4 linked regions of the Homo sapiens genome follow. The protein of the gene in region 1 purifies or fractionates together with the protein of each later gene. This does not show direct contact. Each region holds a gene or a part of one and is shown on either strand. Other genes may lie near its edges.

Region 1 (7,028 bases):
ACAGATATGTAATAGAGAAATTACAGTAAAATGCTGATTGTAGAATCTAAGTGATGGGCAGATGTGTGTTCACTGTGTAATTCTTTCTAGTATTCTGTATGTTTGAAAATTTTTATAATAAAATGCTGGGAACAAATACCTTTATGGATCCAAAAAAAGCAAAGAAACAAAGTAATGAGTAAGGCTATGCCATGGTTTCATGGTTCTCAGTCTGGCAGCAGACAGTGGCAACCAAGCCTTCATGTACTAAGGAGACCAGCATAGGCTGTCTTCTCCAGACAAGGGCCAGAGCCAGGTTTATAACTTGGAACCAGGAGCTGGATTAGGTCAATACAAAAATACGCAGAACTGTCGTTATAAGACTTGGTCCTAGGCTGGGTGCACTGGCTCCTGCCCATAATCCCAGAACTTTGGGAGGCTGAGGAGGGAGGAATGCTTGAGCCCAGGAGTTCGACACCAGTCTGGGCAACAATAGCGAGACCCCATCTCTACAAAAAAAAAAAAAAAAAAATGGAAAATTAGTTGGGCATGGTGGTGTACACCTGTGGTCCCAGCTACTTAAGAGGCTGAGGTGGAAGGATCGCTTGAGCCTGGGAGGTCAAGACTGCAGTAAGCAGAGATTGTGCCACTGCACTCCAGCCTGGGCAACACAGAGAGATTCTGTCTCAAAAAAAAAAGGCCAGGCACAGTAGCTCACGCCTGTGATCCCAACATTTTGGGAGGCCAAGGTGGGCAGATCACCCGAGGTCGGGAGTTCAAGACCAGCTTGAACAACATGGAGAAACCCCGTCTCTACTAAAAATACAAAAAAAATTAGCTGGGCATGGTGGTGCATGCCTGTAATCCCAGCTACTTGGGAGGCTGAGGCAGGAGAATTGCTTGAACCCAGGAGGCAGAGGTTGCAGAGAGCCGAGATCATGCCATTGTACTCCAGCCTGGGCAACAAGAGTGAAACTCCGTCCCAAACAAAACAAAACAAAACAAAACAAAACAACAAAAACCTAGTCCTGGTCTGGAGGTCTAGGAATCTGGGTATAAATGAATATAAAATGTTTTTGCAATCTATCCATCTGACAAAGGTCTAATATCCAGAGTCTACAAGGAACTTAAACAAATTTACAAGAAAAAAACAACCCCATTAAAAAGTAGGCAAACCACATGAACAGACACTTCTTAAAAGACATTCATGCAGCCAACAAACATGTGAAAAACAGCTCAACATCACTGATCATTAGAGAAATGCAAATCAAAACCACAATGAGATACCATTTCACGCCAGTCATAATGGCAATTATTAAAAAAATCCAGAAACAACAGATCTTGGCAAAGTTGTGGAGAAAAAGAAACACTTTTTTTTTTCTTTTTTTTTTTTGAGATGGAGTTTCGCTCTTGTTGCCCAGGCTGGACTGCAATGGCATGATCTCAGCTCACCGCAACCTCCACCTCCTGGGTTCAAGTGATTCTCCTGCCTCAGCCTCCCAAGTAGCTGGGATTCCAGGCATGCACCACCACGCCTGGCTAATTTTTTTTTGTATTTTTAGTAGAGACGGGATTTCTCCATGTTGGTCAGGCTGGTCTCAAGCTCCCGACCTCAGGTGATCTGCCCACCTCGGCCTCCCAAAGTGCTAGGATTACAGGCATGAGCCACTGCGCCTGGCCTAAAAGAAACACTTTTGCACTGTTGGTGGGAATATAAATTAGTTCAACTATTGTGGAAGACAGTATGGCAATTCCTCAAAAATCTAGAGGCAGAAATACCATTTGACCCAGCAATCCTATTACTGAGTATATACCCAAAGGAATATAAATCATTCTATTATAAAGATACATGCATGCATATATTAATTTCAGCACTAGTCACAATAGCAAAGACATGGAATCAACCCAAATGCCCATTAGTGATAGACTGGATGAAGAAAATGTGGTACATATGCACCACAGAATACTATGCAGCCATAAAAAGGAACAAGGTCATGTCCTTTGCAGGAAAATGCGTCAAGCTGGAAGCCATTATCCTCAGCAAACTAATGCAAGAACAGAAAATCAAACATTGCATATTCTCACTTGTAAGTGGGAGCAGACAGTGAGAACACATGGACACATGGAGGGGAAACAACACAGACTGGGGCCCATCAGGGTGGGAGCTGGGGGAGGGAGAGCATCAAGAATAGCTAATGGATGCTGGGCTTAATATCAAGGTGAATGGTTGATCTGTGCAGCTAACCACCATGGCACACATTTACCTATGTAACAAACCTGCACATCCTGCACATGTACCCCAGAACTTAAAAGTTGAAGGAAAAAATAAAATAAAATACTCAACTAAAAATAATAATAATAATAATAATTGCAAAGTGGATAAACAGTGAGGGTGATAACAAAGGGAGAAAAGTAACAAAACAAAACGAATCTTCCACTAAAATTTAGGTTGAAAACTAAAGTTTCAAAACACACAAGTCTAACACTGAAAGATAACCAATAAAATTAACAAATGAAATAAAAATTCACTTTTGATGACTCTGATTTTATAAAAGAGTTGGGTAAGACTGCTCTGGTCCTGCCTAACAAAGCTGAAAAGCAAGCCTCTAACAGACTAAACTATTTCTGAGTAACTTAACAGTGACCCAGAATAAAGCTCAAGAATATTTAGAGGAATACAAAAATATCCAGCACCTAGTAAGGTAAAATTCACAAAGTATAGCATCTGATAAAAAAACATTAACAGGCATGCAAAGAGCAGGAAAACAGTACCCACAATGAGGAGCAAAACTCTATAGAAATAGATCCAGAAATCATACAGATACTTGAATTAGTAGACAAGGATATAAAAATAGCTCCTAGGACTATATTCCATATGTTTCAGAAGAAAAGTAATGACTGCACATATGATATAGAGGCATGGAAGATATTTAAAAGGCCCAAATCAATATTTAGAGATGAAAAAGATAATGTTTTAGATAAAAAATATAGTGGATGAGATTAACAGCAGATTAGGTATTGCACAATAAAAGATTAGTAATCTTGAAGACAACATAACAGAAAGTACTGAAATTGAAACACAGAAAGGAAAAAGACTGAACAACAACAACAACAAAAAGCATCAGTAAGCCAACTTTTAGTCAGCCATGTAACTGAAGTCTTAACATATCACTGAAGTTTGCAGAGGACAGATAAAGTATTTGAACACATAATGGCGAAAACCTTCCCCAACATGTTGAAAACTATAAAAACCTACAGACCCAAGAATCTCAATGAGCTCCAAGCACAAGAAACAAGGAAAATTACCTAAGGCACATAATAATCAAATTGCTTAAAACCAGTAATATAGAGAAAATCCTAAGAAAAAGAAAGAAGATATGCTACGGTAGCCAAAGAAAAGGAAAAAAAGATATACTACACATAGAGGAACAAAGATAAGAATGTCAGTAGCTTTTTAATATTAATAAGAAGCAATGGAAGGCAGAATATCTTTAAAGAACTAACAGGAAAAAAATCTTGTCAATCTAGAATTCTATACCTATATTTTTCCAAAGCAAAATAAAGACTTTTTCAAACATAACAAAAGCTAAAAGAATTCATCACCAACAGACTTGCACAACAAGAAAAATTAAAGTATGCCTTGGGAAGAAGAAAAATGATACCAAATAAAAATCTGGATTGATACAAAGAAATAAATAGCAGTGAAATGGTAACTACGTGAGGAATTATAATGCTTTTCTTATATCTCTTTAAAATATTACCTGAAGGTAGATGGTGATAAGTTAGAGATACATTATAAACTTTCAAGCAACCACTAAAAAAAGTTATTGCTAATAAACCAACAAAGGAGATAAAATGGAATCACATAAATTATTTAACTAATGTAAATGATGGCTGAACAAAGGGGAAAAAGAAACAAAAAACAGACTAGTAAAATAAAAGAGGGGAAAAGAAACAAAGAACAGACAAAACAAACAAAAAACGAATAGCAAGATGGTGGAATTAAATCTAACAATATCAATAATCACATTAAATGTAAATGTTTTAAACTCCCTAGTTAAAAGGCAAAGATTATCAGATTGGATAAAAACATAAGACCTAGCTATATGGTGCATACAAGAAACCCACTTTAAATAAAAAGACAAAAAGAGTTTACAAGTAAAAGGATGAAAAAAAGATGTATATGCTAACACTAATCAAAAGAAAGCTGAAGTAGCTACATTAATACCAGACAAAGTAGATCTCAGAGCAAAGACTATTACCAGGATCAAAGAGGTCCATTTCATAGTGATATAAGGGTCAATTCATCATGCACACAAAATAATCCTAAATGTTTATGTACCTATTAATAGAACTTCAAAATATAAAGCAAAAACTGATACAACTGCCAAGAGAAATAGATAAATCCACAATTATAGTCAGAAATTCTAATACTCCCCACAACTTCAATAACTGATAGCTCCAATATATAGAAAATCAGTAAGGACATCAAAAACTTGAATAACACTATCAACCAATTTGACTTAATTGACACTTATAAAACATCTCACCCGGCCGGGCGCGGTGACTCACACCTGTAATCCCAGCACTTCGGGAGGTCATCGCGGGCAGATCATGAGGTCAAGCGATCGAGACCATCCTGGCCAACATGATGAAACCCCATCTCTACTAAAAATTAAAAAAAAAAATTAGTTGGGCATGGTAGTGCACACCTGTAGTCCCAGCTACTCTGGAGGCTGAGGCAGGAGAATTGCTTGAATCCAGGAGGCGGAGGTTGCAGTGAGCCGAGATCATACCACTGCACTCCAGCCTGGTGACAGAGCGAGACTCTGTCTCAAAAAAAAAAAAAAAAACAAAAAACTCACCCAATAATAGCAGAATATATATTATTTTTAAGTGCATTAGGACATTTACCAAAGAGAGAATATATTTGGATTATAAAACAAGTCTCAATAAATTTACAAGATGTCAAATCATAAAAAGTATGCTAACCACAATGGAATCAAATTATAAATCAGTAACAGAGATATCTTTAAAATTTCCAAATATTTGGAAACTCAATAACAAACTTCTAAATAACTTAGAGGTCAAGAAAAAAATCAAAAGGGAAATTATTTTAAATTATGACCTGAATAAAAATGAAGACATATGTGTCAAAATGTGGGGGAATGCTGATAAAGCAGTACTTACAAGGAAATTAGAAGGCACTCAACATTTCTGTTCCATCTCCTGGAAGAGAAGACCAAATACAGCATGTTCTCACTTATAAGTGGGAGCTAAATGATGAGAACTCATGAGCCCAAAGAAGGGAACAACAGATACTGGGATCCACCTGAGGGTGGAAGTTAGGAGGAAGAACAGGAGCAGAAAAGATAACTATTGAGTACTGGGATTAATACCTGGGTGATGAAATAATCTGTACAACAAACCCATGACACGAGTTTACCTATGTAACAAACCTTCACATGTACCTCTGAACCTAAATGTTTAAAAACAACAACAACAGAAATCTCAACGTTATAAAATACAGGCCACCAATGAGTCCAAGTTTCCATCAAACAAACAAGTATGAGTTAACGCTTTAGATGCAGAATTTCTTGAGAATATACCCAGATGAATAAATATGATCTGATCTAGTGTTACATTCTATTCTCCGGCTTACAATCCATCCTCACATATATTCCTCAGGATTCCACAGATATAAATTAGCAAAATTTTGCAATTCTTTTCAAGGACAGACTATTTCTAGTCAGATCAGATTTTGTCCCTATACTAGGCAACATGCAGAGATCTGGGCCTCATGACAAGATAATAGAGGTAGCTCTTAAGTGTGGATAGCCCTTTGCAAAGAAACTACCCTAGGTGAGGTTATTACAGGATCTTCAAGCAAGAGAAGGCTAATTTTCAAAAGTAAGCAGCTTCTGTCAACAATGGAGGCTCAGAGTGACTGGAGTTTTTTTCAAGATTCTCAGCTCTGTCCATGTCTACCTAGATGTCCCCATTCCAAGTCTCAGGGTTCTACTTCTTTCCAAACAATATTCTAAATGAGACACTGACAAAGGCTAGGTAATTCTATTACTATCGCAGTTAAAACTGTGTTCAGGCACCTGCCACCATGCCTGGCTAATTTTTCTATTTTTTGTAGAGACCGAGTTTTGCCATATTTCCCATGTTGGTCTTGAACTTCTGGGCTCAAACAGTCTTCCTGCCTCAGCCTCCCAAAGTGCTGGAATTATAGGCAGTGAGCCAAAATCATGCCACTGCACTCCAGCTCGGACAACAGAGCAAGACTCTGTCTCAAAAATAACATAACATAACATAACATTACATAACATAACATAACATAACATAACATAACATAACATAACATAACATAAAACTGTGTCCAATTTTTAGCAAGTCTTTCCGTGGCTACACAAAATGAAGTGCTTTAGAACCATGGAAACTTTTTGATTCTCTAAGACTTGACCGATCTAACGCTTTGAAGACCTGAGTTTGTCATTTGCTTTCTGTCAGTGCTCCAGTGAACAAAGAAGCACCTATCTCACTTCTCACTTCTCCCTCAGTCCCTGTAGTCATCATTACTGCCATTAACAGTCAAGCGCTTTAGCCACTTGGTCCTCCAGCACACAGCTTCAGAAATAATTTTATCACAATCAACCAAATGTATCAATTTGATTGTGATGCCACTACATGTTGTGGGTTACTAGATTATTTCCCATTGGCAAAGAGCTAAAGAAATTACCAAACCGATGCCCCCAAATTCTATCTTTGAAAGTTTTCTCACCAGGATCCCATTCTTAGTGACAATTTCTTTATCAGTCAGGGTCCAGGCAGGAGTCTGAAAATGCATCCGTTATTTTAACAGAGAGATTGGACTTGATTTTTAAAGTTGTCAGCATCAACATCAAGAGAAATTTTCATATGAAAAATGTTAACCATATGTTGAAGAACTGAAAAGGCAAAAAGAGGACACTGAGTCCTACTTATGTGATAAGAAGTAGTAACAGCAGGAAGCAGCTATCACTCCTAGGACAAGGGAACAGAGA
Region 2 (7,028 bases), on another chromosome or scaffold:
ACTATTTTGCCTCAGAGGAAAGAAATGGGATCAGAGGATTGAAAAGAAACTTCCAAGATAAATATTTTTTTCTAAAATCTCAAGCAAAAAATAAGATTAAAATAAATTCTCTCTGCTGATAGCTGAGATGAAAAAAAGAATAAAACATAAATACATTCTCTCTGCTCTGCTATTAATTTTGCATTATCTAAACAATTTAATAAGAATTGGCTGGGCAGGGCCAGGTGCGATGACTGTAATTCCAGAATTTTGGGAGGCCGAAGTAGGTGGATCACCTGAGTTCAGGAGTCTGAGACCAGCCTGGCCAACATGGCAAAACCCCTTCTTTACTAAAAATACAAAAATTAGCCGTGCATAGTGGTGGGTGCCTGTAATCCCAGCTACTCGGGAGGCTGAAGCAGGAGAATCACTTGAACCCAGGAGGCAGAGGTTGCAGTGAGCCGTGATCACGCCACTGCACACCAGCCTGGGCAACAGAGCAAGGCTCCATCTCCAAAAAAAGAAAGAAAGAAAGAATTGGCTGGGCAGCCACGCATGACAGCTCAGGTCTGTAATCCCAGCACTTTGGGAGGCCAAGGCGGGAAGATCATTTGAGCTGACGAGTTCAAGACCAGCCTGGGCAACATGGTGAAACCCCATCTCTCTACAGAAAATAGAAAAATCAGCCCAGCGTGGTGGTGCACACCTGTAGTTCCACTGAGGCAGGAGAATCCCTTGAGCCCAGGAGGCAAAGGTTGCAGTGAGCCAAGATTGCACCACTGCACTCCAGCCTGTGCAACACAGCAAGACCCTGACTTAAAAAAGAAAGAAAGAAAGAAAGAAAGAAAGAAAGAAAGAAAGAAAGAAAGAAAGAAAGAAAGAAAAAGGAAAAGAATTAGTGCATGTAAACAAAGGCTAACAATTTGTCCCAAGGATATTTAGTATCCCGTATAATACAATGCTATCAAAATAGAAAACCCTTAGTATTTTCTTTGCCTAGTTTTACTCAGTTTATTTACTAAGGTAATAAAATCATTCTTTTATTCCTTTATTTGACAAATGTTTATTGAGGGTAGGGCATTCAGATATAGTAGGGTAAGACAATGGGAGTTCTTAGCTACTTCAATTTCTTCTCAAATTGTACACCAAAAGAAAGAAGGCATGTATGCTTCCATTCTTGTCTGATAATTTAATCACAGGAGATGAGTATTAGACATTAGAAAAAAACAGAAAATGGTTGTATATGGAAATGCTATTGTCCAATCCACAGAAGTAGATTTTGCAAAACTAAGACTCCTGTAGAAGCTTGTGACTTACAAGTTGGAAATCACAAAGAGTGCACAAGATTTTATCTGTTTGTCCTTATCTTTGTAATCTTGTATCTGGCAGCTTTTTCCTCTATCTGCCACACTAACTGGACTACTGGAAGTTTTCTCACCAATAATGATGGCAGCAACACCAACTGAAAATTTTTCCAGATGAAAACGACTGCACTCACGCTCTATGATGTACAGCTCCGGTGGCTAAATTGCTCATCTGCATTAAAGTAAATGCAAAACTGCTTCTGGGCTGGGCATGGTGGCTCGCACCTGTAATCCCAGCACTTTAGGAGACTGAGGCGGGAGGACTGCTTGAACCCAGGAGTTCAAGACCAGCCTGGGCAACACGGCAATACCCTGTCTCTACCCCAAAAAAATACAAAAATTACCCAGGCCTGGTGGCATGCCCCTGCAGTCCCAGCTATTCAGGAGGCTGAGGTGGGAGGATCACCTGAGCCCAGGAGGCAGAAGTTGCATGCAGTGAGCTGTGATTGCACCACTGCACTCCCGCCTGAGTGACAGAGCTAGGCCTTGTCTCAAAAACAAAACAAAACTGCTTCTGAAGATATTACCTTTTTTTTTTTGAGACGGAGTCTTGCTCTGTCGCCCAGGCTTGAGTGCAGTGGCGCGATCTCAGCTCACTGCAAGCTCCACCTCCCGGGTTCACGCCATTCTCCTGCCTCAGCCTCCTGAGTAGCTGGGACTACAGGCACCCGCCATCACACCCAGCTAATTTTTTGTATTTCCAGTAGAGATGGGGTTTCACTGTGTTAGCCAGGATGGTCTCGATCTCTTGACCTCGTGATCCGCCCACCTCGGCCTCCCAAAGTGCTGGGATTACAGGCTTGAGCCACCGCGCCGCGCCCGAAGATATTACTTTTAAGGGGAGAATATTTTCGTAGTACAATCTCCAAATTCCAGGTTGAAATTCTGACCCCTTATCCTAATAGAAGATAATCAATCAGCTATTCAAATTTTAATATTAGGAAAAGTATAGGGAACCATGTTATTAGTACAATTTTTTTTTTTTTTGAGACAGAATTTCACTCTGTCGCCCAGGCTGGAGTGCAGTGGCGCAATCTCGGCTCACTTGCAACTTCTCCCTCCCAGGTTCAAGCAATTCTCATGCCTCAGTCACTTGAGTAGCTGGGATTACAAGCATGTGTCACCACATCCAGCTAAATTTTTGTATTTTTAGTAGAGACGGAGTTTCACCGTGTTACCCAGACTGGTCTCAAACTTCTGGCCTCAAGTGATCCACCCACCTCGGCCTCCCAAAGTGCTGGGATTACAGGAGTGAGCCACTGCGCCTGGCCTTAATATAATAATTACACATCAGGACATAGTTGGTAACCTAAGGAGCTTTTAATATTGAGAAACTGCCTGAATTCCATTGCCTAGTCTATTCCAAAAAGTAAAGCTCTTCATAAAAAGTCAGATTCACATTACAGAGAAAAAAAATTATGTCAGAAGGATTGGTAGCTATTTAATAGTTACATATAAGATTAATATGAATGCAGGAGGTCTTCACTAGCAGGTGTCAGAACTGCTCAATATTTTTAACAATAACCTGGATAAAGCTACAGAAGGCAGGCTAGTAAAATATAAACTTAAAATTATAAAAATAAGTTTTTAAAGAAAAATTAAACTATTTTTTAAAATAAGCTAAAATTGGCTGGGCGTGGTGGCTCACACCTGTAATCCCAGCACTTTGCGAGGCCGAGGCCGGTGGATCACCTGAGGTCAGGAGTTCATTACCAGCCTAGCCAACATGGTGAAACCCTGTCTCTACTAAAAACACAAAAAATTAGCAGGGCGTGGTGGTGTGCGTCTGTAGTCCTAGCTAGCTGGGAGGCTGAGGCATGGGAATTGCTGGAACCCGCGAAGAGGAGGTCGAAGTGAGCCAAGATCATGCCACTGCACTCCAGTCTGGGTGACAAGAGCAAAACTCCATCTCAAAAAATAAAAAATAAAAAAAATTAGCTAAAATTAACAGGACGAAATTTAATAATGATGGATGTGATATTCGACATTGGGATTCAAAGAATCAACCATATAAACTGAGACCAAAAAAGGGGGTCAGGTATTTGGATTCTAGACCCTTGAAGAAGTAGCAATTCCTACTCAATTAATCAACAGAACACTAGGTTTCAAGGTTTCAGAATAAAAAGAGTAACCAGTCTTGCTGGGTATGGTGGCTCACACCTGTAATCCCAGCACTCTGGGAGGCAGGGGCATGAGGATCGCTTGAGGCCAAGAGTTCAAGACCAGCCTAGGCAACAGAGTGATACCCACCCCCCATCTTTACAAAAAAAAAATAATAATTTTTTAATTGAATAGAGTGGTGAAAAGGGGAAAAAATAATAGCCAATCTTAATGTTCGCATAAAATAAGTAGATTATATCTGGAATACAGTATTTTATTTAAGAAGAATACTAAAAGCTACAGAATAAGAGTGCCTCTCATAGAAAACCTTAAAAGAAATAATTTGAAAACTGTATCTTATAAGATAGCACTGTACTAAGAGTAAAGTTTCTGGAGCAAGGCTCCACTATCTCCTAGATTTGGGACCAGTGGTAAGTTTCTTCTCTTTGCCTTAGCTCCCTCATCTAAAACACTGATCTAATTACAAATATCTACTTTCTAGAGTTTTGGAGAAGATTAATATATAATATTTTAAACTAATTATATAATTACACATAATACGTTAATATATAATTACATATTATATATTAGTATATATAAAATACTTAGAAGAGGGTGATATAGTAAGTACTCAGTAAATGTCAACCATTACGAACTGAAAGCATGGATGTTTAAACAGCAGAAGGCAAAAGATGCCAGGACTTGATACACATGTTCCAATTGAACATGATGACCAAAGGGATCCTTTCTTTTCTGTGCAACTTGAGAAAGTCAGAACAGCATATTCAATCAACGGTGAAGACTTCGGTTCAAATACAGATGAACTTTCATGGAAGGAGCATGTTCCCCATAATTGTTACACAGAGGTTGGGTAACTGTCAGAGGTGCTTCAAAGGACAGCAAGCACTTTGCACTAAAAACTCAGAATTGAATTAAGATTCTATGATTATAAAAAAATTGATTTGTCTTTCAACAGTTTCAATCTAGACTATGGTTCCACGAGTACTAGTCCAGCAGTACCATATGAAATATTACACTTTAGCAAAAATACAATGAAGGAATAAGCTTATGGCTTATCTTTCCATATTTATCATGGAAGAAAATTGCTACCCAATAAAAGCAAGCCAAAAAAACTGATGAATGGAAGGAAGTTATCAATGAAGAGTGCAACAACAAGCAGAAAAGTTTATTTTATTCTCAATCCATAGTAAGTGCTCAGGGAGACTTTTCACAAAAGAAATCAGCTGACAAGCATTTTAAATAACTGTTTCTTTCCCTTTAAACAAATATTCTGAGAATAAAATCATTCAAACCTCTGTGAGGATTTGAAGATCCCACAAAGTCCTATAATACTTACCTAATCATTCTTAATTTTCATTCAAAACCACAACACAGAAAAAGAAATGTAGTGCTAATCTTTTTATTTCTCTTTTACTAGAAAATCTGTCTCATTGATCCTTAAGAGTCTAATTAATGAGAGCCTTAAGGCTATTAAAAGAAATACGCAGTCTTCTAACTGAGTTCTCTGGCTACAACCTATGTGTTCTACAATCTATTCTTAACATTACCACTATTAATAATACCAAAGTATAGCTCCAATCTGGCAATCTTCATTCCAAATAACATCCTCTAAATGAGATTTGTAAATATTAATTAGCATTTCCTATAAAGATTTTTAAAAATCTGTCCAATAATGAATGGCAAAATATGGTCAATTCTAGCCTTATCTCGTTGAAATAATTTTGAGAAATATTGGAAGAGAGAGGAAATAGAAATGAATTAATGAATATGACAGAGTTCTAACAGAGTCTCAAATAAGCTGATGATAATTTTCACTCTAAGTCTCACTTTTGAGCAAGATGAAGAGTTAATATACTGGCATTACGGAACAGTCATTAAAAATATTCATGTAAACCACATAGAAACATGGAAAAACCTAAATCTTCAGTTCAGCTTGTGAGCAAAAAGAAAAAAGAAAGAAAGAATATGAGAAAACAAATGCTATCACCATATTCAAATGAGAACCACCATAAGAAAAATTATCAATTCTTTTATTGTTTACCAGACTATAATATTGATTTTAAAACTAATCAAAACTGATTCATCTAAACACAGTAATGCTTCCATAAAAAATATAAGAAATTCCAGCCAGACATGGCAGCTCATGCCTGTAATCCCAGCACTTTGGGAATCCAAGGTGGGAGGGTCACTTGAGGTCAGGAGTTTGAGACCAGCCTGGCCAACATGGTGAAACCCCCATTTCTACCAAAAAATACAAAAATTAGCTGGGTATGGTGGCGTGCGCCTGTAATCTCAGCTACTCCAGAGGCTGAGTGGTGAGAACTGCTTGAACGCAGGAGGTGGAGGTTGCAGTGAGCCAAGATCGCACCACTGCACGCCAGGCTGGGCAAGAGTGAGACCCTTTCACAAAAAAGTAAAATATATAAGAAATTCCTCTTCTAGGATTTTATAAAAGTTAAAACCTGTGGGAAATGGTCTTATTTTAGGTCACATTCAGCCCTATAGTTTCACCACATTACTGTATTTCAGGACTGTGATAAGCCCTGGGGGATAGAAATTAATTTAACAAATGCTTATAATCCAGCATGGGCCAGACATTATAAGTTTGTGGGGATGGCAGCATTGTTCAAGTCTCCACCCTGCTTTCCTTTTGAATGACTGGTCATCAACACTCTTATCATCACTCTCCTGAATACTATGCAATTTTTTCACTTTCCTTAAAAAACTAATTTGAAAGTCAGTGTCCTTCTGTCAACCCTTCTTTTTCACAAGTTAACTAACTTTTAAACCTCAGTACCATCTTAGATCCCTCCTTACTTTTTTCATTTACTTTTTTTGAAATGGGAGGCTCTCTATATTGCCCAGGTTGGACTTGAACTTCTGGGCTCAAGCAAATCTCCTGTTTCAGCCTCCCAAGTGACTGAGACTACAGGCTCAAGCCACAGCACCTGGCTCCCCTCCTCACTTTCTATCAGTTTCTAAATTCGGCATTTTTTTTTTTAACCACATTTCATCTCACATTTCTTCTAGGTCTCTATCTAAATTGAGGCTTTTATTTCACATCTGGATTATTCAATGAGAATGCCTGTTAAGACACAGAGTTGATACCTGGACCATCTCCTTTCAGCTCACTTCAATGTTTACTTGTAGCTGGTATGCACAGTTAACACACTGACAACTTCCCATCTCAACTACTTCTCTCCTCAGCTCTCCAGCACCTCAGGAGCTTGCCAAGCCCTACCTAACCAGTGTACCTGGGAAGTTCTGGGAGCCTTTTAGATAAAGGCAATCTTTATCAGTGAGGATTGACTGTAGATGGAAAACCACCCAGCTCCCCTTCATTTGGGGCAGTTATACAAAACTCTGAGGCAGTTATACAAAAATCTCCAAAGGCTTAAGCAGCCTCCAGTTGGCCTTCCACTATTAACCTTTTTTCCTCCTTCTCTGATTCTACCTGCTTCCTCACTTGTGCTTTATAGCATCTCACCTGCACCCATGTCATCTCAGGTCCAAGTTCAAGATGCACTTCAGAGAAACCATAAGGGCTACAAAAATAATGGTCAC
Region 3 (7,028 bases), on another chromosome or scaffold:
ATCTGCCTGTTTCCGGTGCCTCCAGAAGGTGACCGAGGAGCGCGAGTGTGGCCGGATCACTGGCTCCCCATGAACCAGCAGCTTCACAAAGACGCTCAGGACAATCACACCATTTACCAGCCATAAGAGAAGAGTAGGCATCATCCAGTCAAACCAGCCCCCAGAACCTAAGAAGGAGCGTCTCAGCAGAGTCTGCTAGGAAAGGCCTTGCGGAGCAGCCAGGCACCTGACAGACCCCAGCACTATCACAGGAAAGAGTCTTCTACCTCATTTTCAGAAGAAAGGGCAAATAATTCTATAATCTAAACAGGGCTAATGACTGTAGCCCTTCTCATTATGGAGCTGAGTGCCATAAAAATCTTTGTTTTGAAAGGGTTGAGGCATTGGTTTTGCAACCTCAGATAAAAAACACGATATCCTCCTTCAAATAGGTACCACCCCTCCACCCCAGGGTATTTAGAGTAGTGTGGGTCCCTGATTTGTTTTGCTCATTCTGACTGAACTTGGGCTTGCCTTGTTACTTCTAAAATGGAACTTATGCCAGTCCCTATCAGAAGCAAGCAGGTGGGGGCCCACTATAAAAGCCCTTTGGGACCTGGTAGCCAAGCCAAGAAGTTTGTACACAGGGTCCTTCTCCTGCCATAGTGGTCCAGCCATGCCCAGGTGGGGCAAGGGGCCTCCACCTACCTGACTCGAATGACAGGACACTGCGGCCAGAGCCTGAGTGTGGGTGCTGGTCAGAGTCGTGGGCCCCTCCCCACTGCAGCAGGGAAGTCAGGGGGTTAAAGGAGAGGCACAGGAAGGTGAGGACACACAGAAGAATCCGTGAGCGGTCTACCATGCCCAGCGCCACAGGAGGAGAGTCTGGCTCATCTTTGACCTTCAAAACAAGGCCTCGAGGTTGGAATAAATACTGCATAGGTTTTTACAGCACTTTATAAATACATATATATATATTGAGAAATGGTTATGAGGTTTAAATTCAAGTCGATTAACTCAGGACTAAGGCCAGATGGGAACTGAGAAGCCTATAATTCACTAACTGCTGCTCAAACATTGGCACATTCACCTGCTTGCTAACTGAGAAAAGTACATGTTCCAAAGAACAAAGGTAGAAGAGATTTTCTTTTAAAATAGAAATCTACCACAAAAGAGAACACACTGTATGATTCTGTTTCTGTATAATTCCAGAACAGGCAAAATGAATCTAAAGTAACAGGAAACCAATGAATCAGTCATTGTCTGAGGCTGGAGAGGGGTGTGGGAAACTACCTGCAAAGGTGTACAAAAGAGCTTTTTGGGGTGATGGAAATGTTCTATATCTTGATTACAGTGACAGTTACATAGCACTGTACATTATGTTAAAACTCTTGGTACTGTACTTTTAAAGTAGGTATATTTTATTGCATTTAAATTACACCTCAATGAAGTTGATCAAAGACCGTATTTAGTGTGAATCTATCTAAAGGATTTTACCTGTTCTAAAACTGTATCATTGTCTACACCCACCCCACTCTCCATTTTACAGCAGGAGGGCTGAAGCCAGATCTCCCCTGCGCCCCAATGTGTATATAGCATGTCATTTCTTTTCAATATTTTAAAACCATTTAAGATTTTCTTCTGATGACTCAGAAGCCCAGCTAATTCAATTTATATGTCAAACAGCCTGTTGTTGCCAAACAGAACCACATTTATAAGAATATTTCAAAAATGGAGCTTCCTTAGTAAAATTAAGTATATGATACAATAAACAGCTTAGTCAAAAACAAACACTAGGAGGGAACTTTGTGCTTTCAGAGTCAGAAACTGCCGAAGTCAAAATACAGTACAAAACCCAGTGGTCTCTACAGGTTCCCAGGAAGATCATTAGGCTCAGAGCGTCTCTTAAGTAATTCCATTAAACTACCATTGCCAGGGGCTTTGACGATTAAAGGCCCATAGGTAAAATGTTATCTGTTAGACTGCAAATTGTAATCATTTCTGAAAAGAGGACCCAGAGGCAGCCTCATCCTAAACCAACTGATCAGCCTCCCAAAGTGGTCTTGCCAGGCCCATTAAAGGCAGAGTGAAGCAATGAGGTGCCTCCAGCAGCTCCCAACGCCCCCACAACAGCTACTCTGCATTCTCGTTCTGGATCTGGCACTCATTCCTCTCTGACGGGGCCTATCGGCAAGGACCAGTTAAACCTGAGGGACTGTTTCCCCCCGGAGTCAGTTTTTTCTTTCTTTATTCTCCAGGACCTGGCTAATTTCACAGAATTCCTGTTTTTCTCCAGGCTAGGCCCTCTTAACATGCGGCCTGGCCTCATAACTGTGACCTCCCAGCTATCTTCTTAGGGGAAATGGGAAAGATTCCAGGGATCAGGAGATTTCAAAAGTCTGTACCTTTGCATCATCCAATAGAGGGCTTCCTGGCTCAGAGTCAATGGAGTAGGGAGAGAAGCCAGCCTGGGACCCTGAGTCAGAGGCTGGGGGGGACATCAGAAGGACATTCTGATTAAAGTCCTCGATCTTCAGGTCCACCTCATTGTCCACCAGACTGCCTAGGTCGATGCCCTTTAGAAGCTCTGCAAAGAAAACCCCACCTGGTGAAAATGATCTGCTTTTACAAAGCCCCACCTGGGCCAGGGCTGACAAGCCTTTTCTCAGCACACTTACTGTTCTTTTGATTTGCCAGCTTCAGCACCATGTTCTCCTGGCGCAGTTTATGATTGACCTGCTGCAAGTATTTGATGTAATCAATGGCCTTCCTCAGAACGCCAGACTTGTGCATCTGGGTAGGAAGATGAGTGAAAACACAGTGAGACCAGTGCAGGCTACAGTGTGAAAAGAGCAGAGCCCTAGCACTTGGGATGACAGCATGGCTCTGTGAGAGGAGAAACCAAGTTCAGATGCTGGTCCTCCCAATGATTAGCTGTGCCACTCGGGAGAAGTTATTCCATACCTCAGAACCTCACTTTCCTCCTCATTAGCACAGAGATAATGAAAGCGCGTGAATCACAGGCTTGCAGCAGGGCTAAATGAGATAATGAGTGTAAAGGGCTTAGCCCTGAGCCTGGCAAATAGTTGACACTCAATAAATATTAGCTATTGTTCCCACTTCTTATAATAATCCTAGCACCATAACAAACTTTAACGAAAACAAATGAAAAAAACAACCACAGCATTGTTGGACAGTTATCTTTTTTTTTTTCTTTTTTCCAAGACAGAGTTTCACTCTTGTTGCCCAGGATGGAGTGCAATGGCGCGATCTCAGATCACTGCAACCTCTGCCTCCCAGGTTCAAACAATTCTCCTGCCTCAGCCTTCCAAGTAGCTGGGATTACAGGCACCTGCCAGCACGCCCGGCTAATTTTTTGTATTTTTAGTAGAGACGGGGTTTCACCATGTTGGCCAGGCTGGTCTTGAACTCCTGGCCTCGTGATCCACCCGCCTCAGCCTCCCAAAGTGCTGGGATTACAGGCGTAAGCCACAGTGCCTAGCCTGGACAGTTATCTTAAGGCATAGATTTTTACTTAGGATGTACAGCTTTCAGATTTGTAGGCAAGGAAAATGAAATTTTCTTTCAAAATAGGGTTTAAACATAGATAGGTTTTAAAAATAAAATCTCCTACTTTCTAGAAGACACATACACTGAAACACCAGAAACATTTGGAACATCAGTTTCCTCTATGTGTTGCTGGTCAAAGACTCAACCTCTTTTTTCTTTCTTTTCCTTAAAAGGTAACCCCTAAACACAGCTAAAACTATGCCATCAGCTGACTCCAAGGTACACACAGTCCTGTATCTGGAACTACTGAGTGGCAGGCATCTTTCTCTGCCTCTGACAGTGGAGTCCCCATCACTGCAGAGCATAGCCAAAGGAGTCAAAGGTCTCAGCGGGTCACTGCCTTATCAACCCTCACCAGTCCCTTATGTTTTTTAATATTTTATAATCTTGACATGACACCAAGATGCTTTAATAAAAAAGCACCTCTAACTCGGTCTTGTATTCACTTACCTTGAGCCTGGGACTTCTCTAGGCTCCTGAGGCAAAAACAGGTAGAGGGGAGATGGTGGAACATAAAACACAATTTTGCTTGGCACCCACCTTGGCGTCTGTCCCCATGACCAGGTCTTTCAATTCGATGATTTTGTCATTGATGGAGGAGCGATATCGTTTCTCAATGATATTATGGGTTGTCCGCCTTTCTCCTTCTTTGGGGGGCTCAAGCTGCTTGACTCCCCCAGGTACCTGCTTAATGGGCACTTTCTCTTGCCCCATCATTACAGGCATTGTGGTCAGAATGGTCCCACTGCTGCCCACCAGGGTCTAGAATAGGGACAGGTACACAGCAGAATGATCCCTTTGTTAGTCTGCATAAAGCAACCTCAACACAGACCTGCCCGCTTTGGCCAAGTGCTGCCAGACCTGGCAGTACTTCATGAGGTCTGAGACTCTTCCTGGGTTAATCAAATCAGGCCCCAAGAAGTCTCAGGAGCCACGGAACCTTGGTTACTACCTCCCTTCAAGAATCACTGCTGATAAACTACACCACAAGAGGATTAACATGGCTAAATATGTTTTAAGTTTTGATCTACGTATGCCAGAAACAAGTCATATGATTTCTGCTTTGCTGTCAAACTGTTAACCACTTCTAAAGTTGTACACGGTGAACCACGAGTTGGCACCAGAGAAAACTTTCTCCTAGTGTATGACACATTTTTTCCTCTCAAATGACAATTAAGCAAATTACTGCATTTCTTTATACAATTTTGCCATCAAAAAGCTCAAGGGCAGAAGTGACACTCTCAATAAGAGCCATTTGATTAAGTAAATAGGCCAACCATGGAGGTCTCCCCTTTTTATTCTTCATCTCTGTTTTCTCCTCTTATTTTTTCTAACTTTATTTTATTTTATTTTATTTTTTTTGAGACGGAGTTTCGCTCTTGTTGCCCAGGCTGGAATGCAATGGTGTGATCTCGGCTCACCACAAACTCTGCCTCCCAGCTTCAAGTGATTCTGCTGCCTCAGCCTCCCGAGTAGCTTGGATTACAGGCATGCGCCACCATGCCTGGCTAATTTTGTATTTTTAGTAGAGACGGGGTTTCTCCATGTTGGTCAGGCTGGTCTCAAACTGCTGACCTCAGGTGATCCACCCGCCTTGGCCTCCCAAAGTGCTGGGATTACAGGCGTGAGCCACCACGTCCTGTTTTTTTGTTTTTGTTTTTTTTTTTGAGACAAAGTCTCACTCTGTTGCCCAAAAGCTGGAGTGCAGTGGCGTGATCACAGCTTACTACAACCTGCACCCCCCTGGTTCAAGTGATTCTCCTGCCTCAGCCTCCTGAGTAGCTGGGAATACAGGCACCCACCACCACACCTGGCTCATTTTTGTATTTTTAGTAGAGATGGGATTTCATCATGTTGGCCAGGCTGATCTCAAACTACTGACCTCAGGTGATCTGCCCACCTCAGCCTCCCAAAATGCTGGGAATACAGGCGTGAGCCACTGGGCCTGGACCAATTTTAGTTTAATTTCTTAAATAATGGCCTCAATATCTAATCAGCCAATAAATAAATAAAAAGGTGCCCAATTTCATTAGTTGCCAATAAGTACGTCATGCACAATAAAAACCACAAATCTTAAGTTTATAGCTTGATGAATTTTACATATGTACACAATGTATATAACCACCCAGACCAAGATATAGCCCATTTCTACCAGCTCAGAAAGTCCCCGCATGCCCCTCCCCTCCTTGTCACCACCGCTCTGAATTCCAGCACCATAGCTTCATTTTGCCTCTTTTTAAACTTCATATAAATGGACTCATTAGCATGAACTCCTTTGGCTTGACACACTATTTCTTTTTTTTTTTTTTTGAGACGGAGATTTGCTCTGTCGCCCGGGCTGGAGTGCAGTGGCGCAATCTTGGCTCACTGCAAGCTCCACCTCCCAGGTTCACGACATTCTCCTACCTCGGCCTCCCGAGTAGCTAGGACTACAGGTGCCCGCCACCATGCCCGGCTAATTTTTTGTATTTTTAGCAGAGACGGGGTTTCACCATGGTAGCCAGGATGGTCTCGATCTCCTGACCTCATGATCTACCCACCTCGGCCTCCCAAAGTGCTGGGATTACAGGTGTGAGCCACTGCGCCCGGTGGCTTGACACACTATTTCTGAGGGACAGCCCCATGTTGTTTCATGCATCAGTAGCTTTTTTTTTTTTTTTTGAGAGTCAGTCTCGTTCTGTCATCCAGGCTGGAGTGCAGTGGTGCGATCTCGGCTCACTGCAGCTTCCACCTCTCAGGTTCAAGCAATTCTCCTGCCTCAGCCTCCTGAGTAGCTGGGATTACAGGCATGCACCATGCACCACCATACCCAGCTAATTTTTGTATTTTTAGTAGAAATGGGGTTTCACCGTGTTGGCCAGGCTGGTCTCAAACTCCTGACCTCAGGTGATCCACCCCTCTTGGCCTCCCAAAGTGCTGAGATTACAGGCGTGAGCCACCGTGCCTGTCAGCAGTTCTGTTTTTTAATTGCTAGGCATAATTTCATTGTATGAATATATCACAATGTGCTTATTTTCCTGTGGATGGACATTTGAGTTGCTTCCAGTTCTTGGATTTTATGAATAAAGCTAGTGCTTCTAAATTTTAATCACCATTTACTCTATCAGATTCTCATGCTATAGGATGCTGAAAGTGGCTAAGAACCTACAACTGAAGGATGGGGTACCTTCCATGTTCTTCACCTTGGAGCCCTTCCCTGCCTGGTGGCCCTAGGGTCCTTCAGAAGTCATCAGCAGGATCTAAGAGGTGAATGGTCTTGTGTGGAGCTATTAGCCAAGAATAGAGGGTCCTTCTGCTATTCTTTTCTACCTCCTTGTAGACTCCAGTACTCCCACATCGAACACACATTGCTAATACTTTTTCGAGCGAAAAACAACTAAGAGGGGTGACATTTACAATTTGACTGATTTGTGCTATAGACCCTCCCATACCTACTCAGCATATAGAGATTTAACATCTCTGAAGACTAACACCTCCAG
Region 4 (7,028 bases), on another chromosome or scaffold:
TGGAGTTAATGGCATCAGGTTTGGCACCAGACGGCCTGGGCTCGGATTCCACTGAGCTACTTTTTACTTGTGTAAACCTCAGCAAGTTACTCAAACCTTCTAAGCCTTAATTTCCTCGTCTATAAACTGGCGATGACATTGTAAGTAGCTGCTTCATAGAGCTGCTGTCAGGATTCATTGGGACGTTGGTGAAAAGTGCTCAGTACATTCACTTTCAATACTAGCTGATAAAAGAATCCTAACAATAGAAACATTAACTTAAACACTCAGGGTCTCACCTTCAAATACTAGCTTTTCATGTCCTTACTTGGCTGATAAGCCACGCTGTCTATAAACTAAATAACTGAAGACAAGGTAACAATTAAATTAATGAAATAATAAAACTATAAAATTAATAACTAGAAAATATCCAGAATACCATGATAAGATTGTCTAAGAATTTTTTTTTAAATCATTTGAAGGGCTACCCCTTTTTCAGAGTAAGACTCACACCTACCATATCCCTGACCTGCAACTGTCCAGCCCCTCCAGAGCTGGGGCATCCTGATTGAGTAGGGGAGCCATTATATTTTCAGCTAATACCCATTTTATGAGGAACATTCTGTAAAACCAAAATTGATCTTCCCTTAGTGAACACCCACTAGTCTTGTTTCACCCAGTGGCATTCCTCAGACAGAGCAACTTTAAATAAGTGCAGATGGCTGTCTTGTTCTCCACTGAACAGGCTCTCCTAGGGGTGAAAGCTCCCAGGTCCTCAACCCTTCCTCACAGTACGTGGTTTCTAGCCCCTATCATTCTGATGTTGCTTTTCTGAGCATGCTGGTCTGGGAATGTCTCTTTTGAAAGGGGCTACTCAAAGTAAACATTATCTTCCAGAGGTGGTCTTGGCATACTGAACAGAGTCAGATGTTACTTCCCTTTTTCTTAACACAGTCCACAGTCAAGGAACACATTCCCTTCCCTGGAAGACATATTTCACTGCTTCCAGTCAACTAAAATCCCCATGCTTCATGCACACTTCCTTCCAGCCATGCCTTCCCATCAACATTTATCTGTTTTGTCTCATCCATTTATGAGCAGGATTTTACATGTATTCCTATCTACTTCATTTGATTGACATCTTGATACTATCCTGGCCTCTCTAGATCATTGTGGATTATGAGTCTATCAGCCACTGGCTGGCATATACAGTTTCAAGTCACACAAGCATTGCTTTAGCAGGTCATCCATGCTAGTCACTGACAAAGCTATTGAACAGAGTCCTGCCATCTGCTATCCGGATCTGCCTTCAGCCTCACAGGGGCTTATTAACTACCACTCTTTACCCTTGATTATTAGACCAGTGTGGGGGACATACCCCAAGGTGGCCCCTAGTGACTCAGGCCCTTGTGTAATCCCTTCCCCTTGAATGTTTGCTTACAGCCCATCTTCTGATGCCCTGAAATTCTCTTTATGTTAAACTCCCTAAGGGTGAGGACCGTTGGTTTCATTTGTATACCCCAGACTGCTGAGCACAGCATCTTCCACCAGTACTTTCAACTTAAAACCTGTGAAAATAGTTTGTGACTGGAAAATACTGTTAATATATGATGCTACAATTCTTCAACTGTGGACTTAGTCTGAGTCAAGGACTTTTAATTTATATGGATGATCTGGATAACAGTAAAATTCAGATTATACGTATGTATTCATTCATTTATTTGTTTATTTAGGAGATGGGATATTGCTATGTTGCCCAGGCTGGTCTCAAACTCCTGGTCTCAAGCGATCCTCCCACCTCAGCCTCCGAAAGTGTTAAGATTACAGGCATGAGCCAGCACACCTACCAAAACTCAGATTTTATAAGCAAGACACATCGTTTCCTTCCTCTGTGACCTTACTGTGACCTCTGTGTTACTGTGATGGCCAACCATTCATCTACTCATGACATGTAACTCCCTTAATGGTAGCTTTGTGACCCAAAAGACTTGATCTTGCTTTCAGAGGAGCTTGATTTATATTGCATTGAAATAGCTCAAGGACCAAGAAAATTCAAATTAACCAACCTTTCACTCAACAAATAATTAATGGAGTCCCTTTAAGTACTGTCCACAGATTCTTAGTTACACTTCTTTTCAAGATGTGGAACTTAATTCCACTTGCATTGAGTGTGGGCTGGACTTAGTGACTTATTTCTAAGAAACAGAATGAAGTGGATGTGATGGTGTGTGGCTTCTGAGGCTAGTATGTCATGGTATCTTCCTTCTTGTTCTCTCTCTTGAATTCCTTGTTCTGGCAGCAGCCAGCTGCCACATTGTGAGGACACTCAAGCAATTTCACACAGCAAGGAACTGAGGCCTCCTGCCAAGAGCTATGTGAACAGGCCACTTAAGTAGCAGACCCTCCAGCCACAGTCAAGCCTTCAGATGACTGCAGCTCTGGCTGAGATCTTGACACAACCTCATGAAAAACAGTGAGTCAGGACCATCTAGCTAAGCTGCTCTTGAATTCCTGGTCCACAAAAACTATGAGATGATGAATATTTATTGTTTTAAATTGCCAAGTTTTAGAGTAACTTGTTATGCAGCAATAAACAACTAATACAAATACAAATTCAGAATTTTGACTTACCTTGTAGTATTGTAAAATTCTTGATGAGCTGACCATGCTTGGAGTCTACTAGCTTCATTTCTTCCATAATCACTGATAAGTTGGCTACTTCAGTGTCTAACCTCGACCTCATCAAATCTTGTTGCATCCTGAGAGAAACAGAATCCAAACGGATGTTGGCCAGGGTATTATTCAAGGAGGTCAGATCATCTGTGTGTTTGGTAAGGGTATCTGTGCAAGTGGTCCTGACTTCATTTAGATTGCTGGTCAGCGTCCGCAGGTGGTGGGCTGTGTAACTGATATTGCTAATGATGTTCACAATATCCGTCTCAAAGAGCTGGAAGCGTTCCTCCAGTTGGTTGAACTTGATGGCTGTTCTATTCTCTGCATCTTTGTGTAAGTCCTGCAGGTCTTTCAGGTTCTGCTCGTTGGCTTGAGAGATAGTGGTGATGTTCTCCATCTGACCTGTGAATGAGTTGAGCTGGCTGTTCATATCCTCCAGGGTGTCGTTGTTGGCTTTGGCCAACGCAGAGTTGTTGGCAGCCAGCGTCTGCAAGCTCTGCACTTTCTCCTTCAGCCAATCCGTGTCCTTCTTGGCTTGAAGAAAAACCTGCTGCAGATTTTGAAAGTCGTTCTTGATTCGCTGGATAGCCTGGCTTGTGTCATCCACAGACCGCTGCAGATTCGTGATGAGGTTCCTCTGCTGCACCTGGGTCAGGTTCAGGTTGTTGAGGTTCATGATGACCACATTATGAGAATACATTTGGTTCTGCAGATTGCCCTGGAGCACGCTGGTATCTTGCTGCAGATTCGTGACATAGCCATTATACGCCTGGAGGGTTTTGTTTACAGTGGTGATGAGGAAAGAGTTATTCTCCAAAGTTTCTTTCAATTGACTCTGCCTGTCCACCAGAGCATCCCCGCTCGCCTGTAACTTCTCCAGCGTATCCTTGTTCTTGCTGGTTTTTTCTGTAATCTCACGAAGTTGCTGACGGAGATCTAGAATGTCTGATCTGAAGGTGGAGAGTTCTGAGTTGGTGCTGATAGCTTTCTTCCCAGTTTGGTCACCTGGAATAAGAAATATCTGTGACTTATATTGGTGGTATGGAGAAGTGTTCAGGCAAGGCCAAAGATCCCGAACACACTTAATCGGTATGCACTGTATTTTAGATGCAAAATTGGCAGTATAAGCGGACAGCTCTGCATTAGTAAAATGTACATATCTATTAAAACTGGGTCCTGGGGAATCGGAAAAGAAGCTCAGAACTAGGAATGACAAACTTGGCTGAACATTTTTCTCAAAGAGGGAGGGGGAATTTACTAGATTTTAGGGCAGTGGGCAGGCTGTCAAGAAGAAACTAACCTTTTAAATTTCCCAAATTTTTTTTTAATGAAAGCAAAAATCAAGGAATAGAATATGCTAGGATCTTTCACTTTATAACTTAATTTCTACAATTCTATGTAGTTTAAAGTATTTCAAAAATGCTCAGTAAATTCCTATTTATGTGACAGTTTTTAATAAAGGGTATTTGTGTTTTTTTTCAGTCAGGATTGATCTTCAGATATTATTTGGCACATAATAGTTTTCTTGGCAGGACTTAATTCCAAAACTGACCCTTAACTTTAAAATTTAAGCATTTGAATTAAATCATGAGGGGAGACTCAACATGCAACACAAAAATTGAATGTCCTTCCGGGTGAATGGGGAGTTTATAGCAACATCATTCTAAGAAGCTGTGGTCATTTATGTAGAGTCAGGGGATTTCATGGTTTAGTCTTGTCACAGATTACCTAATTTTTTCAGGTCACTTTCCACTGCTGTGAGCTTGTCATCATAGGTTTGGCGAGATGTTTCCATGCCACCTGTGACATTGTCCATTTTCTCTACAACTAAGATTTGGAAAATGATGCATTAGTATACATATCTGCTCATATTTTATTTTTCAGTTTCAAAACAAGAGATCATTTCATTATGGAACAAAGGAAACAGATTGAACGAAAACAGTGTAACTGAAATCAAATATAGGAAAGAAAAGCCATCTTTTTGGAAAAATAACTTACTTGTCACAAAACCCAGGGGTACAATTTACTTAGTTGAGAATTGTATGTTCTTAACTATTCTTATGATTCTGTAATGCCTTGGATGTTTCAGAAATCATTTGGAACTAATTTAAAAATTTTCATGCATTTTAGAAGTCCCTAATCTGCTATTTCCTATATTAATTTCCATAGATGAAGGCAAGGCACACTGTGATAATTTACAAAATGTTGTCACTCATCAGCTTCCCTAACATTCTTGGCAGGTGGGACTCATTTACCTAGAAGAGGATTCCATTGGCAAGGAAAACCCAGCTCAATTCTATACACAAAATCGGCATAGAAAGGTTGCAAAGTCAAGAGTGTCTGCCACTTTCTGTTATGAGTTCCACCACAAGGCCCTGAAAATCTGCTTTTTGTTAGTGACAACTGATTCTGTAGTTTGTCAGTTCTCAAGTAGATGCCTGAGTGGTGTTTCCAAACAATGATTTGCCAAGAAGTATTTTTTGGTAGTATTTTCTTGATTGCATATGATAGGGAAAGTAATGCCACTGATAGGGTTTGGCTGTGTCCCCACCCAAATCTCACCTTGAATTATACTCCCCTAATTCCCATGTGTTGTGGGAGGGACTTGGTGGGAGATAATTTGAATAATGGGGGTGGTTTCCCCTATACTGTTCTGGTGGTAGTGAATAAGTCTCACAAGATCTGATGGTCTTATCAGGGGTTTCCACTTTTGCATCTTTCTAATTTTCTCTTGCCGTCCCAAATGTTAACCCCCAAGACAATGGGGAAAATGTCTTCAGGGCATGTCAGAGCCTTCCTGGCAGCCCTTTCCATCACTGGCCTGGAGGCCCAGGAGAAAATGGTTTCGTGGGCCAGGCCCAGGGTCCCCATGCTGTGTGCAGCCTAGGGACTTGGTGCCCTGCTTCCCAGCCACTCCAGCCATGGCTGAAAGGGGCCAATGTGGAGCTGGGGCCGTGGCTTCAGAGGGTGCAAGTCTCAAGCCTTGGCAGCTTTCATGTGTTGTTGAGCCTGTGAGTGCACAGAAATCAATAATTGAGGTTTGGGAACCTCCGCCTGGATTTCAGAGGATGTATGGGAACTCTTGGATACCCAGGGAGAGGTTTGCTGCACGGGTGGGATGTGCATGAAGAACCTCTGCTAGGGCAGTGTGGAAGGGAAATGTGGTGTCGGAGCCCCCACACAGAGTCCCTACTGGGGCACTGCCTAGTGGAGCTGTGAGAAGAGGGCCACCGTCCTCCAGACCCCAGAAGGGTAGATCCACTGACAGTTTGCACCGTTCACCTGGAAAAGCCACAGATGCTCAACACCAGCCATGAAAGCAGCAGGGAGAGAGGCTGTACCCTGCAAAGCCACAGGGGTGGAGCTGCCCAAGACCATGGGAACCCACCTCTTGCGTCAGCATGACCGGGATGTGCGACCTGGAGTCAAAGGAGATAATTGTGGAGCTTTAAAATTTGACTGCCCTGCTGACTTTGAACTTGCATGGGGCCTGTAACCCCTCTGTTTTGGCCAATTTCTCCCATTTGGAAAGGCTATATTTACCCAATACCTGTAACCCTCATTGTATCTAGGAAGTAACTAGCTTGCTTTTGATTTTACAGGCTCATAGGCGGAAGGGACTTGCCTTGTCTCAGATGGGACTTTGGACTGCAGACTTTAGGGTTAATGCTGAAATGAGTTAAAACTTTGTGGGACTGTTGGGAAGGCATGATTTGTTTTGAAACGTGAGGACATGAGATTTGGCAGGGGCCAGGGGTGGAATGATACAGTTTGGCTGTATTCTCGCCCAAATCTCATCTTGAATTATATCTCCCAGAATTTACATGTGTTGTGGGAAGGACCCAGTGGGAGATAATTTGAATCATGGGGGCGGTTTCCCCCATACTGTTCTCATGGTAGTGAATAAGTCTCACGAGATCTGATGGGTTTCCACTTTTTCATCTTTCTCACTTTCTCTTGCTGCTGCCGTGTAAGAAGTGCCTTTTGCCTCCCACCATGATTCTGAGGCCTCCCCAGCCATGTGGAACTGTAATTCCAGTTAAACCTCTTGTTCTTCCCAGTCTCGGGTATGTCTTTATCAGCAGCATGGGAACGGACTAATACAGCCACACTAAATAAAAGCTTCAGTTCTTATTCATTTTCAGAAGGCAGTAATTCTCTACAGTTATGAATTCAAGTACACGTTTCTAAAATGTTAAATAAGAGGATGTTTCTCCAAAAGTGATTTATGTGAGATACAGCTTCTAGCAGCTTGGGATCAAGTCTGACTGTCCTTCTTAGTATCAATAGCTTAAAAAAAAAGACTTCAGACCGGGCATGGTGGCTCACGCCCGTAATTCCAACACTTTGGGAGGCTGGGGTGGGTGGATCATTTG

Evidence for each region.
Region 2: the proteins of CGRRF1 (region 1) and USP33 purify together in Homo sapiens (affinity purification with mass spectrometry; 3 studies listed by BioGRID and IntAct, with this or other methods). This does not show direct contact.
Region 3: the proteins of CGRRF1 (region 1) and SREBF2 purify together in Homo sapiens (affinity purification with mass spectrometry; 3 studies listed by BioGRID and IntAct, with this or other methods). This does not show direct contact.
Region 4: the proteins of CGRRF1 (region 1) and COLEC12 purify together in Homo sapiens (affinity purification with mass spectrometry; 3 studies listed by BioGRID and IntAct, with this or other methods). This does not show direct contact.

Annotation. Positions count from the first base shown.
Region 1 is NC_000014.9:54,512,895-54,519,922, reverse strand, and holds part of CGRRF1 (cell growth regulator with RING finger domain protein 1), read right to left. Parts: intron 1-7,028. UniProt on the Homo sapiens protein: Able to inhibit growth in several cell lines.
Region 2 is NC_000001.11:77,749,825-77,756,852, forward strand, and holds part of USP33 (ubiquitin carboxyl-terminal hydrolase 33), read right to left. Parts: intron 1-7,028. UniProt on the Homo sapiens protein: Deubiquitinating enzyme involved in various processes such as centrosome duplication, cellular migration and beta-2 adrenergic receptor/ADRB2 recycling.
Region 3 is NC_000022.11:41,871,081-41,878,108, reverse strand, and holds part of SREBF2 (sterol regulatory element-binding protein 2), read right to left. Parts: intron 4,312-7,028; coding exon 4,090-4,311; intron 2,773-4,089; coding exon 2,658-2,772; intron 2,567-2,657; coding exon 2,385-2,566; intron 881-2,384; coding exon 688-880; intron 168-687; coding exon 1-167.
Region 4 is NC_000018.10:343,685-350,712, forward strand, and holds part of COLEC12 (collectin-12), read right to left. Parts: intron 4,480-7,028; coding exon 4,381-4,479; intron 3,658-4,380; coding exon 2,611-3,657; intron 1-2,610. UniProt on the Homo sapiens protein: Scavenger receptor that displays several functions associated with host defense. Promotes binding and phagocytosis of Gram-positive, Gram-negative bacteria and yeast.